Homo sapiens: one gene and its partners. The protein of the gene in region 3 interacts with the protein of the main gene of each other region in a pairwise test. Each region holds a gene or a part of one and is shown on either strand. Other genes may lie near its edges.

Evidence for each region.
Region 1: the proteins of VAMP4 (region 3) and TM4SF19 interact in binary tests that used the Homo sapiens proteins (3 or more experiments, as listed by UniProt).
Region 2: the proteins of VAMP4 (region 3) and GLE1 interact in binary tests that used the Homo sapiens proteins (3 or more experiments, as listed by UniProt).
Region 4: the proteins of VAMP4 (region 3) and SYT2 interact in binary tests that used the Homo sapiens proteins (3 or more experiments, as listed by UniProt).

The regions. Positions count from the first base shown.
Region 1 is NC_000003.12:196,325,011-196,329,189, forward strand, and holds part of TM4SF19 (transmembrane 4 L6 family member 19), read right to left. Parts: intron 2,582-4,179; 5' UTR 2,581-2,581; coding exon 2,380-2,580; intron 2,023-2,379; coding exon 1,945-2,022; intron 561-1,944; exon of another isoform or gene 1-560. UniProt on the Homo sapiens protein: Negatively regulates vacuolar (H+)-ATPase (V-ATPase) activity by interacting with members of V-ATPase V0 complex and hence inhibiting V1-V0 complex assembly. Required for multinucleation during osteoclast differentiation.
Region 2 is NC_000009.12:128,527,918-128,532,925, reverse strand, and holds part of GLE1 (mRNA export factor GLE1), read right to left. Parts: intron 4,316-5,008; exon of another isoform or gene 3,926-4,315; intron 262-3,925; coding exon of another isoform or gene 235-261; intron 1-234. UniProt on the Homo sapiens protein: Required for the export of mRNAs containing poly(A) tails from the nucleus into the cytoplasm. May be involved in the terminal step of the mRNA transport through the nuclear pore complex (NPC).
Region 3 is NC_000001.11:171,717,117-171,722,124, forward strand, and holds part of VAMP4 (vesicle-associated membrane protein 4), read right to left. Parts: intron 2,106-5,008; coding exon 2,055-2,105; intron 1-2,054. UniProt on the Homo sapiens protein: Involved in the pathway that functions to remove an inhibitor (probably synaptotagmin-4) of calcium-triggered exocytosis during the maturation of secretory granules.
Region 4 is NC_000001.11:202,703,248-202,708,255, forward strand, and holds part of SYT2 (synaptotagmin-2), read right to left. Parts: intron 1-5,008. UniProt on the Homo sapiens protein: Exhibits calcium-dependent phospholipid and inositol polyphosphate binding properties. May have a regulatory role in the membrane interactions during trafficking of synaptic vesicles at the active zone of the synapse.

The sequences.
Region 1 (4,179 bases), on a different chromosome or scaffold from region 3:
TGCAGCCAAGCTCTGAAATGACTCCACTTCTGTCGCTGTGTTTCTCCAGCTGAGAGCTTTCTTGGCCATCAGTCTGTGCTCCCACTGCCCTCCCAGAAAATAACTGGGTTTCCTTCCTTGACAGGTTTCTAGCCTGCTTCTACATTGGCTTCTTTCTCGTTCCTTCCTTCCTTCCCTTCCTTCCTTCTTTCTCTCTCTCTCTTTCTTTTTGAGACAGAGTCTCACTCTGTCGCCCAGGCTGGAGTGCAGTGGCACGATCTCAGCTCACTGCAACCTCTGCCTCTGAGTTCAAGCGATTCTCCTGCCTCAGCCTCCCAAGTAGCTGGGACTACAAGCATGCGCCACCACACCCAGCTAATTTTTGTATTTTTAGTAGAAATGGGGTTTCACTGTGTTGGTCATGCCGGTCTCAATCTCCTGACCTTGTGATCCACCTGCTTCAGCCTCCCAAAGTGCTGGGATTACAGGCATGAGCCACCGTGCCCGGCCCATATTGGATTCTTTCTTAGGGTTCTAGATTTTTTTCTCCCTCCCCCAAAAATGCCTATTTTAAAAATGTGAATAACACCTACATAGCGTTTTTCTGCAGAGTCATGGAGTCATTCTCCCACTGAGGTCAAGCTGGTTTGGAGTTGGGGAGGGATCAGACAAAGGTGCATAGTAAGTTTTGACTCTGAGTTAAAGGAGTCAAGATGAATCAGTAAGCCTAGGGCAGTGGTTCCCAAAATGGGGTCCCTGCCCAGCCGCATCACATCACCTGAGAACCTGTTAGAAATGCAAAACTTCCCCGCCATCCTGAATCAGAAACTCTGGGGAGGGAGCCCAGCAATCCGTGTTCCGGCAAAAGCCCTCCAGGTGATTCTCATGCACATTCAAGTGTCAGAACTACGTGCCACGGGGAAAACCAGAATGAGAACAGACAGTGAATGAAATGTGCAAGTGTTTATTTATTTATCTATGTACTTATTTATTTATTTATTTTGAAACGGAGTCTCGCTCTGTCGCCCAGGCTGGAGTGCAGTGGCGCCATCTCGGCTCACTGCAAGCTCCGCCTCCCGGGTTCAAGAGATTTTCCTGCCTCAGCCTCCTGAGTTGCTGGGATTACAGGCGCCCACCACCACGCCCAGCTAATTTTTGTATTTTTGGTAGAGACGGGGTTTCACCATGTTGGCCAGGCTGGTCTCAAACTCCTGACCTCAGGTGATCCGCCCATCTTGGCCTCCCAAAGTGCTGGGATTACAGGCGTGAGCCACCGCGCCTGGCCTATATTTGATTTTTTAACATGTAACTGAGTCAGTGGGCTTCCCAACATGTGGGCTGCAGATATCAGAGCAGGCTGTGGAGTTACCATAAGGCCACAGATTCATGTCTGAGAACGAGTGTGTGTGTGTGTGTGTGTGTGTGTTTGTTACACACACATATACTGAGATCTTTCAAGTTTATACAGTTGCTGCTGTAATTAATAAGGTAGAAATTTATTCTGGGCCTCAGTTTATCTGTAAAATGGAGGGGTTAGATTAGAATCTAGTGATTAGATGATCTCTGGAAAACTTTCCTGTTCTAAGAAAATATTAGTTAAAATAACTAGGAAAATTTCCATCAATGACACATGATTACAGTGTCATAACTCATGTCCATATTGTCCAACACCCTAAGAGAGTAACAGTTTCTCACACTGGTACAGACGTCTGGGTCCTCACACTGGTACAGACGTCTGGGCTTCACTAAGCACTACTCCCTTGACTTGATCAGCTCCCATTTTACAGATGAAAGCCTGAAACTGGAAAGATGAAGCAACTTGCCCAAGAACTTAGCGTTACTGAGGGTCACAGTGAGGACCTGACTTCAGGCCCCAAGACCAAAATTGCCTCTTTACCGCCCTGCCTCTAGAGTAATAGAGGTGGAGACATTCTGGGTGTTAGAAGAGTGGAATCTGGTGCTTACGCTTCGACAGAGCCCACTCTTACTGAAGCAGCCGTATCTCCAGCCCATCAAGGAGATGAGGATAGCTGCAGTGAGTACCTGCAGGAGAGAGAAGAATGTTGAGATGGGGAAATCGACTTTGCCGGCTGTTTCTAGGTGCTGCCCACAGCTGTTAGAGTGGCTGGCAGCTCACATGAACGCAGTCCTGTTGACTCTGACTCTGGGGACCCACATTTGTATGACGAGCCTGATCTAACGCTGTGGATGTTAACTTTCACACCCGACCTGCCTGGTCCCAAGCTAGGCTTCCTGTCTCTTAGAGCTTCTACAGACCCAAGATCAGCTTGTTAGAATAAACTTTTCTGCAAGGAATCAAAACACTCTTCCCATGCCACCTTCCTGCTCCCCGCCGGGGTCTCTTTGAGAGTTCACGTTCAGGGAACCCCGGACACTTACCATGAGGCCTCCTCCCCAGAGCCCAGTTCCCAGCATGGCATGCCTGCCAAGGAGGCCCCTCAACAGGTAGGTGACATCCCAGTTAGGAAGGAGGAGTGCCACGTTGGCCCCAGCAGCAAACAGGGCTGCAGTCCCAAGGCTCAGTCCCAGGATACGGGAGCAAGTCCGTGAGCTTGCCTGCGTGCAGGGAGAGGACACCATCCTGGAACAGATAGAAAGGGAGTCGCAGCAGCTCTGCTGTGGGGGGATGGGGAAGGGAACTCCAGCAGCATATCATGGGTGAGGGAAACAGACTACAGAAACCGCCACCTTCCAGGGTCAGACCAATGAGAGCCAAGCAACCTGCTTAAAAACTCTGCTCCTTAGGAATCTTCCCCAGTGACTAGGATTTAATTGTTTCCTTTTCTGCTAACCCCTGTTCACACATACATAGTTTGCATTCCATCATATTTTGTTTATGCCTCTATTACAGCCAGTGATTATTTCTGACAAAAAGAAATGTTTAAAGGTGTCTTCATGATGTCCATTGTCTCCACTTCTATTCAACGTTGTACTGGTCCTGGCCAGTGCAATACGAAAATAAAAGGAAGCAAAAGCCACACAGATAGGAAAGAAAGAAGTAATATTGTCGGCCAGGCATGGTGGCTCAGGCCTGTAATCCCAGCACTTTGGGAGGCTGAGGCAGGCGGATCACGAGGTCAGGAGTTCAAGACCAGCCTGGCCAACATGGTGAAACCCCGTCTCTACTAAAAATACAAAAATTAGCTGGGCACGGTGGTGGGTGCCTGTAATCCCAGCTACTGGGGAGACTGAGGCAGGAGAATTGCTTGAACCCGGGAGGCAGAGGTTGCAGTGAGCTGAGATCATGCCACTGCACTCCAGCCTGGGTGACACAGCAAGACTCCATCTTAAAAAAAAAAAAAAGTAACATTGTTATTATTCACAGATAATGTGATCACATTATGTAGAAAATCCTAAAGTTTATTAGAATTAACAGGTGAGTTTAGCAACGTCATAGAATAAAAGATTAATATACAAAAATTATATTGTATTTCTATATACAAGCAATGACAAATTGAGGATTGAAATTAAAATATATCATTTACAATAGCATAAAAATATAATACATATGGATGAATTTAACAAAATATTTGCAAGACCTATATAGTAAGAATTGCAAAGCATTGCTGAGAAAATTAATGGAGACCTAAATAAATGGAGACATATACCATGTTCCTGAACCAGAAGACTCAAAATAGTTAACATGTTCTCCCTAAATTGATGCAAAGATTTAAAGCAATATCAGTCAAAATCCTAGGAGAGTTTTGTTATAGAAATTGACAAACTGAATCTAAATTTATATGGAAATGCAAAGCAATTGTGAAGATTAGCCAAAGCAATTCTGAAAAACAAACAAAGCTGGAGAACTTACGCCATGTGATTTCAAGACTTACAAAGCTACAGTAATTGAAGACACTGAAGCCACGCGTAAGGAAACACATATGGACTACTGGAACAGGCTGGAGCTCAGAAACAGACCCGGTCCAGGAAAAATGATTTTTTTTTTTTCTTGAGACGGAGTCTCGCTCTGTTGCTCAGGCTGGAGTGCAGTGGCGCGATCTCAGCTCACTGCAACCTCTGCCTCCCAGGTTCAAGCGATTCTCCTGCCTCAGCCTCCCAAGTAGCTGGGATTACAGGTGCCCGCCACCATGCCCGGTAATTTTTTGTATTTTTAGTAGAGACGGGGTTTCACCGTGTTAGCCAGGACGGTCTTGATCTCCTGACCTCGTGATCCGCCTG
Region 2 (5,008 bases), on a different chromosome or scaffold from region 3:
CCAGCTCATGATGATATGCCCCCTTCTCAGGACTTGCCTTCTTCCGTCCTCAGAGACACAGAAGTGGATTCGTAACAGCTATATTTGTACCAAAGATTTTGTGTGCTCCACCCCCACACTAGCTACAGTTAGATTAGAGGCAGTCAAGCTGAGCCAGTCAGTCAACTAAGAGTCACTTCCTTGAGGTAGCTGGCCCTGTGTCACATACACTCACAAGCAGTGGGGGCTGCGTACCTGCCATGAAGACCAAAGAACGGCAATCTATAAAATAAGAATGGAGATGTAGAGAGGACAGATGAGATGAGAGAGGAAAAAAGAACTAAAGTTTCTAGCTCCTGAGACCTCACCTCATTCCTGCCACTGGGTTCTGTAGGATATTTCTTTATCTTTCCAATAAATGCTTTTTTTTTTTTGCTTAAGCAGATCTGGGCCAGCACTTTGGGAGGCCAAGGCAGGCAGATCACTTGTGGTCAGGAGTTCGAGACCAGCCTGACCAACATGGTGATACCTCGTCTCTACTAAAAATGCAAAAATTAGCCAGGTGTGGTGGCGGGTGCCTGTAATCCCAGCTACTCGGGGAGGCTGAGGCAGGAGAATCGTTTGAACCCAGGAAGCGCAGGTTACAGTGAGCCGAGATTGTGCCACTGCACTCCAGCCTGGGTGACAAAGCAAGACTCCATCTCCTCCCTAAAAAAAAAAAAAAAAAAAAAAAAAAAGCAAAGCAGATCTGAATTACTTTCCATTACCTGAAGTCCTGAAGTCAATGTTTTAATTAATACAGCATCTCCAGTTGAGAAATACCCTGTCAAGTTCCTAATCACTTCAAGAAATGTCACAAAAGTTTCAGAAATATCCTGTCATTCAGTTCTCTTATCAAAAAAAAAAAAAGCCAACCATGTGGACCCCACTGGCTGAATGCCCCATCTAGCATCTAGCCTCTCTCCATACCTCTCTAGGTAGGAGGAAAGTTAGTTAGCTTCCAACCCTAGACTGACGTGGCCTCCCCATGCCACAGCAACATCATGTCCTTATTTAAGATTTCTTCTAATTCTAACCACTCATGGACATCCATCTTTTTTTTTTTTTTTTTTTTTGAGCTGGAGTCTCACTCTGTCACCCAGGCTAGAGTGCAGTGGTTCGATGTCACCTCACTGCAACCTCTGCCTTCCGGGTTCAAGTGATTCTTCCACCTCAGCCTCCCAAGTAGCTGGGACTACAGGTGTGTGCCACCACGCCCGGCTAATTTTTGTATTTTTAGTAGACACGGGGTTTCACCATGTTGGCCAGCCTGATCTCAAACTCCTGACCTCAAGTGATCTGTCTGCCTCATCCTCTCAAAATGCTGGGATTACAGGTGTGAGCCACCACACCCGGCGACATCCACTTTTTTTTTTTTTTTTGAGATGAAGTCTCACTCTGTCACCCAGGCTGGAGTACAATGGCACGATCTTGGCTTACTGCAACCTCCGCTCCTGGGTTGAAGTGATTTTCCTGCCTCAGCCTCCCGAGTAGCTGGGATTACAGGCGCCTGCCACCACATCTGGCTAATATTTGTATTTTAGTAGAGATGGGGTTTCACCACATTGGCCAGGCTGGTCTTGAACTCCTGACCTCCTATGATTCACCCACCTCAGCCGCCTAAAGTGCTGGGACTACAAGTGTGAGCCACTGGGCCCAGCTGACATCCACCTTTTTTTTTTTTTTTTTTTTTGAGATGGAGTTTTGCTCTTTTTGCCCAGACTGGAGTGCAATGGCGTGATCTCAGATCACCGCAACTTCTGCCTCCTGGGTTCAAGAGATCCTCCTGCCTCAGCCTCCTGAGTAGCTGGGATTACAGGCATGCACCACCATGCCCAGCTAATTTTGTATTTTTAGTAGACACAGGGTTTCTCCATATTGGTCAGGCTGATCTCGAACTCCTGACCTTGTGATCCACCCGCCTCAGCCTCCCAAAGTGCTGGGATTACAGGATTACAGGCGTGAGCCACTGTGCCCGGCCCACCTTTTTTTTTTTTTTGAGACGGAATCTCGCTCTTTCACCCAGGACGGAGTGCAGTGGTGCTATCTCGGCGCACTGCAAGCTCCGCCTCCCGGGTTCATGCCATTTTCCTGCCTCAGCCTCCGGAGTAGCTAGGACTACAGGTGCCTGCCACCACGCCCAGCTAATTTTTTGTATTTTTAGTAGAGACAGGGTTTCACCGTGTTAGCCAGGATGGTCTCGATCTCCTGACCTGGTGACCCGCCAGGCTCGGCCTCCCAAAGTGCTGGGATTACAGGCGTGAACCACCGCGCCCGGCCCACCTTTTTAAAAAAGAGAAGAATTAGGTGATCCTTCCCTCCTATTCATTAAACGCTTACTGAGCACTAACTAGAGCATGTTCTGTGTCTGGCTGGACTACAAGATCTTAAAGGACTTAAAGTCTTGATGGAGACAAAGGGAGAGTCAGGAAATGTGTAGAAAAATTAAAAAAGGCAAAGATATAGACTAATTCGATGTGGTGAGTGAAAGAGAGGCAGCAGTCATAAAGATGACTCCCAGGTTTCCAGCTAAGATTACTGAGTAGATAATGGTGCTACTGATTACTCAAGAGAAAACAGCAGACAAAGAGGGCTAAGGAAGATGATGGGTTTGGATTTGAACACATTAAACTTGAGGCAGCTAAGAGACATATAGGCAGAGATGTCCCTCAGGTAGCTGAAGCTGGAGAATCTGAAGCTCAGAAGAAAGGAATAAACCAGAGGTAGGTTTGGGAGTCATCAGCATTCAGGTAATGTTTGAAGCCCTGTAAGTAGAGAGAACGAAAAGAACTGCAGGATAAGAGTAGATCCCAGCCGGGCACAGTGGCTCATGCCTGTAATCCCAGCACTTTGGGAGGCCGAGGTGGGCAGATCATGAGGTCAGAAGATCGAGACCATCCTGGCTAACACGTTGAAATCCTGGCTAACACGTTGAAACCTGGTCTCTACTAAAAATACAAAAAATTAGCCGGGCGTGGTGGCAGGCGCCTGCAGTCCCAGCTACTCGGGAGGCTGAGGCAGGAGAATGGCGTGAACCCGGGAGGTGGAGCTTGCACTGAGCCGATATAGTGCCACTGCACTCCAGCCTGGGCGAAAGAGCGAGACTCTCAAAAAAAAAAAAGAGTAGATCCCTAGGAATCACCTACAATTAGAGTGGGGTAGAAGACTAAGAAACCCACAAAGGGGAGAGAGAGAGAGGGAGAGAGGGAGAGAGAGAGAGGAAAGGGTAGTGAGGGAGGGAGGAGAAGAACCTGGAAAGTAATGGCACCATGGAGGCCAAAGGAGTAGAGTTGCACAGAGAAAGCAGCAACAGTGCCGAACAGAAACCTCAGGAAGATCAGCAAACACTTAGAAGACATAGGATCAAGGGAGACTCATGTTAGGATGTGAGGGGCTCACATATATTTACAGGCTGAGAGAGAGGAGCCTATAAAAAGGAGTAATCACAGAAAACAGGAAAGGCAATAAACGATGAGGCAGTCTGACAGGAGACAGGAAGGAAAGGGAACAAGGGCAGAGGTGGAAGGGTAAGCCCAGCAGCAAGGACGCCTCATCCAGTGACACAGGAGACTAAGAGGTAAATGTCACTGTGCAGTGGTGGAGGGGCTCTGAGGAGCTCACACTGGATGTCTCCATTTTCCTGATGAAGGAGGTACTGACCCTGTCTGCAGTCAACAGAGGGGAACTGGGAACGGCCATCGAGGTGTGGAGTGGCTGTCCAGTCAACCTCTCTTGCTTTGCTGTTGCTATCAAAGGACACAGCACTTTAAATTCCAAAAAGTGATATGTTATTTATTTATTTATACCTTGCCCTGTTCCAGAAAGAATTTCAGGCAGCAAAGTCATATGTAAGTTTTGCTGGACTGCCTATCAAGGGCAGGAACTGAAATTTTCCTATGCTTTCCAGGCAATGAGAAGTGAGTCGGGGAACGGAACCCACGATGCGTCAGAGGAGTGTTCCAGTTGCACACACACTCCCCAGCCACCTGGCAGCTCAGTCTATAATCTGGAGGCTTCCACATCTACAGCTCCATACAAATGAACCTCTGGTTCTAAAGAAGTTTCTTCCTTGTCTGGTTCTCACTTTCTAAACCTCAGTCTCTGGAGAGAAAAGGAGTCCTGGAGGATGAACAAGGCGAGCTTGGAGTAATTTGGAAAAGCTAATGTTGTAGGACAGAAGCAAAGCCTGCAAGTCACAGCCTAGGTTCCCTGAGTGATGTTTTCAGCAGTAAACTGCAACTTCAAAGCTAAGAGCCATCCTAATAATTTGCCATAAAAGGTAGCTTGTTAAAAATGAGTCAAAAAGGCCGGGTGCAGTGACTCACGCCTGTAATCCCAGCGCTTTGGGAAGCTGAGGCGGGCGGATCACAAGGTCAGGAGGTCGAGACCATCCTGGTTAACACGGTGAAACCCCGTGTCTACTAAAAATACAAAAAATTAGCTGGGCGTGGTGGCGGGCAGCTGTAGTCCCAGCTACTTGGGAGGCTGAGGCAGGAGAATGGCGTGAACCCGGGAGGCAGAGCTTGCAGTGAGCCGAGATTGCGCCACTGCACTCCAGTCTGGGTGACAGAGCAAGACTACATCTCAAAAAAAAAAAAAAAGGGGGCTGGGCACAGTGGCTCACGCCTGTAATCCCAGCCCTTTGGGAGGCCGAGGCAGGTGGATCACCAGGTCAGGAGATTAAGAACATCCTGGCTAACACAGTGAAACCCCGTCTCTACTAAAAATACAAAAAATTAGCCGGGTATGGTGGTGGGCGCCTGTAGTCCCAGCTACTCAGAAGGCTGAGGGAGGAGAATAGAACAGCGTGAAGCCGGTAGGCGGAGCTTGCGGTGAGCCGAGATCACGCCACTTCACTCCAGCCTGGGCGACAGAGCAAGACTCTGTCTCAAAAAAAAAAAAAAGAAAAAAAGAAAAAAAAAAGAGTCTTCTTTTTTTGTTTTTGAGACAGAGTCTCGCTCTGTCACCCAGGCTGGAGTGAAGTGGTGTG
Region 3 (5,008 bases):
ACTCAAAAGACCCCAATCGGCAACATCCCTTACTAGGTTCACTCTTCAGAAGGATATCAGACAGGAAACAGAGCATACTGGCAGGACAAAAAATAGGTGTGTCATCAGTGGAGGCCTCTTCTCCAGTGGCAGCTTAGGCAAAAGAGAACATGTGAGTGGATAAAGAAGTCATTCTGGCTCAGTGCAGGAGAATGGTTCAGACATTACACATTGGCATCCACATATGCCACACAGGCTTGAACTACAGCTAATTTGAGTCCTGGTAGAATGCTTGTGATCTCCCTGGAACATGAGAGAATGAGTGGCTCATGAGGTCTTCTTCCATCCACCTCCCTGTTTCCCTTATGAGACTATCATAAGGCAGTTTCTTATCACCTCCCAGGTTCTGATGCGGTATAAACTTTCTGCAGGCTCTATGTGCAGACTATAAAAACCACAGCCTAGAAATAGCTCCTTTGCAATAGAGTATCCCACAATTTGTACTGCAGCCATTGACCTCCCCTTTTTTTTTTAAGAGAAGGGGGTTTCACTTTGTTGCTCAGGCTGGTCTCAAAACTTTTGGCTTCAAACAATCCTCCTTTGAAGGAGAATCCCAAAGTGCTGGGATTACAGGCGTGAAACACTGCACCCAGCTGTATCATTATTTTTGGTGTGCAGGACAATGACCCTGAGAGCTACTAACTTTGGCTACTCTTCCTTTTACTATATAAGTAATAAATTGCATCTAAAAGTGGCTTGTTGTATCTTTAGTCAAATAAGAGACTTGAAACAGTACAGATTCTCTCTTCTACTGGCCTCAAAGAAGCACCATGACATCTATAGCTGCAGGAAATAAATTCTGATAACTTCCTGAGTTGGTCATACCTGGTGATACCCTGATTGCCATCTTGTTAAACCTGAGCAAAAGGCTCACCTAAGAAGTGCCTGAACTCCTGACCCAAGGAAACTGTGAGATGATAAATGTGTGTTGTTTTAAGCTGCTAAGTTTATGGTAATTTGTTACATGGCAATAGAAAACTAATACACCCAGTCTAGTACCTGTAATCATTTATTGGTTCTTTGGTTCCATATCTCAAAATCCATTAGTTAGAATTAGGCTAAGTATGGAAATATTTCTTCACACCAACAGCTACCTGAGTAAAGCCCAAGTATCTCACCAATAACTAGATACTTCATTATAGAACCCTTCCCACAATGTGCCATCTATACCCAGGCTTAGGGTAGTGACTATTATCCCTCCTTAGGTCTTGAACCTGGGCCATGCAGTTCACATTCCACAGTTAGTCTTTACAGCTTGGTCAGTTTCCAGAGCCTTCCCTCAAGTGACTCACTGCTCTGTCTATTCCTTCTCCCCTCCAGTCAGGACTCATATCTTTCCGATATCAGACACATTGATTACAGCATATTATACTCATCTATCACCAAATAATATATACCTCAAAGGTTTTAAACCACAAATTAGCCATAAAACTTAGTTCAATATATGGGTTATGATAAATAAGAGATATGAAAAAATTCTGGAAGTAGATAAAAACATGCAGTACATCAACAAATTAAAGCTATTATATTACCTTTGTTATCATTCTGAAAATAGGAATCAAGCTACAGATTTAAAACCAAAATAGACCTTCAGACTATGCTAAATAAATGGATTTGACATAAGGTAATCAAGTCATAAAAAAACCAACAATCCTGCATTTCCTTAGCTATAATTCTGAGAAAATAAAATGAATTAGGTTTTTATAACCCAGCAGTTATATTTAGTCTTCATCAGGGGTCAACAACTTTTTCTGTAAAGGACCAGACACTCAGCAGATATTTTAGATTTTGTGGGCCATAAAATGTGACACAGCTTTGTCACAACTACTCAACTTTGCCATTGTAGCTTGAAAGTACCTATCGATAATATGAAAACAAATGGGCATGGCTATGTTCCAATAAAACTTTATTTACAAAAACAGGCTGCAGCCAGATTTGGCTCACAGGCTGCAGTTTGCCAATCTCTAGTCTACACAGAAATATGATTATCATTTAAACAAATGAACAAAACTTACTGCTTAATTTTATCATTTCTAGGTCCAAATCTTGGTCCAGATGGTCCCCTTCTGAAAACAAGTACATACCAAGTACATATTAGTAGTGACAGGATTAAAACAAAACAAAAAAAAGATAGAAAGTATACACAAATACAAACAATCAAGCTGAACTCTAAACATGGATCAGTTATTTATCATAAGGGACCACATTTTACTGATACTGGTGAAACTGAATAATAGGTAATCATGTCTTTACTTCATTGGCACTTATTACTAGCCACAATTAAGCTAATTCTTCTGCATGTTAAAACTTTCAGAGAAATTAGGGTTTATATTATCTTATATAACAAACTTACACAGAATTTGTTCTGATCATTAAACTCTGAAATATCCTAACTACTTAACTGCTAGTGAATATTAATATCTTTATGGTCAACTGTAGAACTAAAAGCGCAATTCATCTTGAATTTAGACTATAATGAAATGAGGAAACTACAAAGTGAACTGCCGATTGACAAAGATGGATATAGAGAAAAATTCATTGAAGACACTAACAATTTTAAGTATGTTTTTGATTATTCATCTTAAACTTATCAACATAGCAAAAGGGAAATGCAAGATATTAAGAAAATTTTAACATTACTCAGATTATTATCTCCTTATTGTAGTTGAGTGTATATCACACCTTAACCAATCCATTTTAATATTCTTGAAATGAAAACATTTGGTTATTTAAAGTAATCATGATTCTTCCGGAGATACAGAATAAATAAGACATAAACTACAAAACTCAAAAGAAACCAGGTTCTTAGATTTCTAGACATGGCAATTTCTAAAGGAGGTGAAAAAATACAGCAATTGATAAAAAAATTTTGGAAAAAAAAACTGTTTACTGAAACTTATTTAACATAATGTATAAGTGTGAATATATCATCTTGCCTTAGTTCCTCTAAGCTTTTTCCTTAAAGTCTTTTAAGCTCCAACTAAGCCTCAGAATACTGGAACAGTATTCCATTCCAAAGTGATGTTAAACATTGAATTTCATAGAGAAAACTAATATTCTGAACCAGAGGCCATTCCTAAAAACTAGGCAAGAACTTACAAGAGCTGGTCAACCGAAAAACAAAGAAAAGCAGTCATTAAATGAGGAAACTATAAAGTGAAATAGAATCTGAAAAGTACTGAATTAAAATGATCCCCACTACAGGTTAAAAAAAAAGCAGGAGCTATGTCTGTTTCATCTATCAAGTAACATGAGACTTCAAAATACTTATAGAAAAACACAAAATGAAAAGCTGGTTCTTTGAAAATTAAAACTTGATAAACTTCTAGCCAGACTGATTAGGAAAAAAAGAAAGAAGGCATAAATTAGTAACAGGAATGGAAGAGTGAACATCACTACAGACAAATGTACCATGGTTATATAAGATTTATTAACAGAAGCTAAGTGAAGCGTAGATAGGAACTCTCTATACTATCTATGCAACCCTTCTGTGGGTCTAAAATTATTTTTAAAAAATCCCCCAAAGAAAATTCCAGGACTAGATTTGTTCAGTTGTCAATTCTACCAAACATTTAATGAAGAAAAAATAAGAATTCTATGCAAACTATTCTGGAAAACTAAAAAAGACAGAACTTTCCCAACTCATTATCCAGGGCCAGTATGAACCTACCACGAAAACCAGATAAAGACACAACAAGAAAAAGACATAACTATCAACCAACCAATACCTCTAATGAACATAGATGCAAAAATTCTTAACAAACTCTTAACAAATTGATTCTAACAATGTTTTAAAAGAATAATACATGATGACCAAGTAGGGTTCATATCACAAATGCAACGACGGTTTAAAATTTCAAAATCAACATAATTCAACACATTCACAGACCAAAAAAAATGATCATCTCAATAGATACAAAATAAATGCTTGACAAAATCCAACGTCAGCTAATGATAAAAACTCTTCACAAACTAGGAATAGGAGGAAACTTCTTCAACCTGATAAATCTACACACAACAACAGTAACAACATGCAATGAAAATGAAACATAATATGAAAGATGAATGCTTCCCCTAAAGGAGATCAGGAACAAAGCAAGGATATTCCCTCTCACCACCTCTACTCAATATTGTGCTGGATGTTCTAATCAGAGCAATAAGCTAATAAAAAATAAAAGGCAAACATAGACGAGGAGGAAATAAAACTGTCTTTATTTGCAGAAAGCATAATTGTTCTATGTTGAAAATCCAGTAGGATATATAAAAACACTACTAAAACTAAGTGGGTTTGGCAAGATTGTAGAATACAAGGTTAATTTACAAAATGATATTTATACTAGCAATAAGTATGACATTTTAAAATTTTGAAACACCATCTGAAATGTCATTTTTAGTAGCATCAGAAATTATGAAAATCAATGTGCAAAAATCACAAGCATTCCTATACACCAATAACAGACAAACAGAAAGCCAAATCATGAGTGAACTCCCATTCACAATTGCTTCAAAGAGAATAAAATACCTAGGCATCCAACTTACAATGGATGTGAAGGACCTCTTCAAGGAGAACTACAAACCACTGCTCAACGAAATAAAAGAGGACACAAACAAATGGAAGAACATTCCATGCTCATGGATAGGAAGAATCAATATTGTGAAAATGGCCATACTGCCCAAGGTAATTTATAGATTCAGTGCCATCCCCATCAAGCTACCAATGACTTTCTTCACAGAATTGGAAAAAACTACTTTAAAGTTCATATGGAACCAAAAAAGAGCCCACATTGCCAAGACAATCCTAAGCCAAAAGAACAAAGTTGGAGGCGTCACGCTACCTGACTTCAAACTATACTACAAGGCTACAGTAACCAAAACAGCATGGTACTGGTACCAAAACAGAGATATAGACCAATGGAACAGAATAGTGCCCTCAGAAATAATACCAGACATCTACAACCATCTGATCTTT
Region 4 (5,008 bases), about 31 Mb from region 3:
CCACCCTCCCACCCCCGGCCACCGCTCCCCTCCCTCCGCCGCCCATACACATGGCCCTACCCAGCTCAGCCCTGCAATACCACAAATGCCTCATTTGACTTCAGAGGAAAATGGAGCTAAGAGTAGGAGTGAGGAAGGGAGTAAAAAGAAGGGCGGGGGAAGGAACAAGTGGGGAGGGAGAGATGAAGGTACAAGGTACCCTCTCCTGTCTCTCACATGCACACTACTGCAGGTGGTTACAACTCTTTTCTGTTTCTCCACAGCTGAGCAGGAAACTGGGAGAAGAGCCCTTCTCCCCTGCAGCCTCTCCCTCTTGGCCTCCATCACCACTCTCCTAACCCCTGCCAAGCCCTGCATCTGATCCTACCTGAGCTAAAGAAGCAGAAGGTCCGGAGGGAGCCTGTGATTTTTGCCTCGGTCACCTCTTACAAATGCGGTGGGCTGCTGGGCTCGCCCTAACCCTGCATCACCCCCAGGCTGCTCCTTCAGTCTACTCGGGTATGGAAAGGGTTAAGCTCCTCCCATCCCCTCCTTCCTTCATCCCATTTCTCCATTCACTTCTATTTTCCCATATGCCTAGTGCCAAGCTCACAGTTACAACCACTTACACCCTGTATTAAGATGCATGGAATAGTAATGGGTAAATTCCGTCTCTAATTGCAATATTTCCTAATTACTAAATTCCAGAGCCACTGTATCAACCCAATTATGGCAAGTCCTGCCAGAGTTCTCCATGGTCTGAGGACTCCCTGCCTTACTGAGAGGCACCTGACAAATGCCTCGGGGGAGCTTTCCTGACTCCCCACCCAGCTGCTGTCCTCCCCTGGTCCCAGACTGTCCAGTGATGAGGCCCTTGGGCTTCTAGTTTCTCTGCAGGGGATGGGAGGAAGTGAAGCAAGCTTTGTGATTGAGGAAAGCCTTGTGTTGACAGGCGACTATCCTGGGGTTGGAGAGCATCTGGGAGCCCTGTCACTCTGCACCAGCCACCATCAATGCTCCCAGCTTCAGAACTCCACTTTGGGGGCTAGGGGGACCCAGGAGAGGAGGAGAAACAACATGCCCTGGCCTTGGGGAGCGCCCAGGCTGATAGAGGAGACACGGTTATTTTGAGTTCTCCTTTACATCCCAGGTGCCTTTTACAGAGTAGGTGCTTAGTGCATTGGAGTGGAACGTGGAGGAAAAGGCGGGAGGAAAGTAGGAAGTAAGGAAGGAATGGGGTGCTCTGGCTCAGGCTGAGTTTAGACTCTGGCTACACCTGCACGCAAGGGTTGACTTTTGGGCTGTGAGTCCCATAGGGATCTGACTTCTCAGGTCTGGAGTCTCCGAAGGAGAGAAGCAGTCACACACCCACTAACTCCCATTCTCCCTGCCTTTGCAAGGGGCCCTCCTCCCCAGCCCACCCCTAGGACCCTGAATACACACATATGCACACACACACGGCTGCTGGGCTTCAGAGGAGCCGTTTAATTGCCGAGTTGAAACCTGCAAGGGCTTTTGGTGCTGATGACATCAGCATGCCATCACAGATAGGGCTGCTGAGGCTGGAGCAGCTCTGGATTCAGCGGGGTGTCCCATCATGCACTCAAGACTGCCCACCCTGGGGCCTCCCTCCTTGCTTCAGAGCAGGTGTTCCTGAAGGAGGTGCCAGAGCCCTTATGGAGAGCCCAAGGAAACCCAACATCAGGGAGGGAGAGCTGATTCAATTCCTCCAAGGAATCACTGCCTAATTTTTGTAAAGGCTGCTGCCTGATTTAAATCACCCAGCCTCCTGCTTCTACTCAACGCGTTAGTGGCCTCATCCCAAGGACCCGCACCTGTATTCTCGGGCTCCATTTGCCATAGGTAGAGCTGGTGAGAAGCGGCGAGGAGAGGAGGAAGGGTTCTGACCACTCAGCTGCTGTGGCCTGGAAGGCCCCCTGCAAAGTGCCTATGATCTGGGGATTTTGAACAACCACACAACTTCTCTGGGGATTTTGAACCACACAACTTCTCTGGGCCTTTGCCCGTTCATTGTAAAGTGGGGACAGCGATGGCGTAGCCGAGGACTGCAGTGATGAGAGCTTGACCGCCCTTGTGAGCCGCTCTATCCCCGAGCAGGGGAGCAGGAGGCGCAGGGAGGAGCCCTGAGGTTCCCTGTTGTGCGGGACCCACACTGACTTTGCCCTTTCTTATGCCTGATGCTTAGTGTTACTGACAGCAAAAGCTGAAATCCTGAGGTCCCCGGCTAAAGTGACCAAGGAAGGGCCTCTCCTGACTTTACAGCAGCAGGTAACCCCCCTTTCTTTCAGATTTGGAGGCTGCTTGGCCATTTTAATGGACCCTGCTACTCACATCCTACTTCCCTAAGTGTGAGGGGCTTTCAGAATCTAACCTCCTCCCTGGCACTCAGCCAGCAGGGACTTTATCCTCATCAGAAAATGATCCAGGGAGGAAGCTTCTACAATATCTACTGCTCATCTTGGATTTTGGGAGTCCTTTTTTTTTTTTTGAGACCGGATCTCACTGTTTTCCAGGCTGAAGTGAAGTGGCATGACCATAGCTCACTGCAGTCTCGACCTCCTGGGCTCAGGCGATCCTCCTGCTTAACCTGGTGTGCCACCATGCCCAGCTAATTTTTAAATTTTTTGTAGAGACAGGGTCTCCATATGTTGCCCAGCCTGCTCTGGAATTCCTGGGCTCAAGCGATCCTTCTACCTCAGCCTCCCAAAGCGCTGGGATTACAGGTGTGAGCCACTGCACCTGGCCTGGGGAGTCCTTCTGGATGTTTAATTTTAGACCCAGCCTCTCTAGGGGAGGGGGCTGGCAGCTAGGTGTTCCCCTGCCCTCCAGGCTCACAGTGACTCTCAGGTCCCTCTGGGCCTGGATCCAAATTTACCCATCACTCTGGCTACTTCCTTGAACTGTCAGTTCCAGAGATGAAAATGAAGGATTGCTGGGACAAATCCTTCCCAGAAATCAAGCTTTGGCAAGAAAAGACTCATTAGGCATAAAAACCGTCTTCGAGTGAGGGGGATGAAATGCAGGACTGACCACCAAGACGGTGAGGGCAACTCCTTCCCTTGAGTTTTAAGAATATCAAAGGTGGACAGTGCTCCCTGCAGCTGGAGAACCCAAGACAGTGTTGTGTGTGTGGGCAGGAAAAGGAGCACGCAGGCCACCCAAGGATGAAAAGCACTTACTCCTCCCGCGCCAGGCACTGTTCTACACGCTTTACAGGAATTAACCCATTTCATCCTCACCAAGAACAATCTACGTCATAGTTACAAATTTTAGCTCCATTCTACAGATGGCAAGACTAAAAAACAGAGTGTGATTGACTCGCCCAAAATCACAGCAAGTGGCAGAACCAGGATGAACCCTGGCAATCTGGCTGTAGTCACTATACTGCCACTTAGAAAAAAATCTCTGACTTGATGTTTCTCCAATGAAACTATATTATTTATCACAGGCTTCTGGAGTCCAGGAGAAGCCATAACTGAATCCCAGCTTCTCTGGCCTGGCTTCTCTGACTGAGTGGAAGATGAAGAATCAACTTGTTGCCTATGGATGGATTATTCACGTAGGGAATTTAGAACTGCATCTGTCTGGTGGTCCAGGGGCTACTTCTAAAATAACACGAATAGTTATCAGTTCTACAATACTACCCTGAGAGTTAAGCATTATTACCTCTGTTCTTTAGAGAAAACTGTGCAGACATTGTCAGATCATCCTGTTACATGCTCTCGAAGCTTCCTACATACCTTCATAACTCTTGGCACAGTCATGATGAATTCTTTATGTAATTATCTAATTGTGTGGTATTCACTAGATTGTAAATGCCACGAGGGCAGGAAACAGGTCTGTTTTGTTCCCACCTGAATCTCCATTGCCTAGCACAGATTCTCAAAATGCAATAGTGGAACGAATGCAGAAGGGATGCTGAGTGGCTCAGTAACATGTGTAGGGCCTGCGGCTGTGCTCACCTCCCCACCCAGAGAGACTACAATAGTGGCACATGGTAGGTACTCACTAATAAAATACTTGTTGCAAATGTCAGACTTTGTACTTAGCAGCCCTGGGATTTGAACCCAGGCCTGTCTATCTCCTAGCCTCCATTCTTTGGTGCTTCATATTTAACCACTGCACTGAGTGACCCTGCCCCCCCATTACTCCCTCTGACTTGCTGTTCCAGTTCTTAAAGAGTATCCCCACCACCCTGGACCTTCAGTGGTGGGGATACTCTGGCTTCAGCTAGGACCTGCCTAGACTGGGGAAGTCCACAGAGCAAATCCCAAAGCCAAGTGAAGTAGTGTTTCTACTCATCTGCAGCCTTAAGTCCTCCACGAGGATGCTTCTGTCCAGGGAAGGGAATGATGGTCATTCTTCCAGGCAAATGAAGCCCAACCTCCTCCCACTCTGTCCTCACTGCCTTCTGTCCCCCTGCTTCCAGTGCACTCACTGCCCCTCTATCTACTCTCCCCTGAGAGGGCGGCACAGGCCTGGCGGGGAAGAAAAAGGAGACCCCATTGAGATATGATAATGTTCAGATGGAGGCAGAAAGAATGACTAGAGGTCAGGCTTGCCTAGGGGCTGGGGAACACTGGGGTAGCCTGGTCCCCAGGGCTTGAGAAGGGCAAGGAAGAGGCTTCTCCAGCCACCTCCAAAGCCCACCCCCAGGTCTCTGCAGTATCATAGACAGCCCTGTCACACCTGCCTGGAAGCTGCCTAAGGGTAGAAGGAATAAAACGAGCTCCAGCTGCAATGTGAGGGCAGGTGAGCCCAGACCCAGCTCCAGAAAGGGTCTCCTCGGCCCTGCGAGGTCTTCAGCAAGGTACATGCTTTGCCCAGGTGAAACCAGCTTCAGTCCTAAATTGAAGCCAGTTGCAAGCTTCTCTAGGTGAAAAGTCAATGTTTACGAACACCAACACTTTTTGCTTCCCCTGGTCCTGTTCTGCGGATGTCAGACCCCAAAGCTGAAAAAGAAATGTTCCTGCATAATCACCCCCTTCCCCCAAAAGAAAACCCAAGT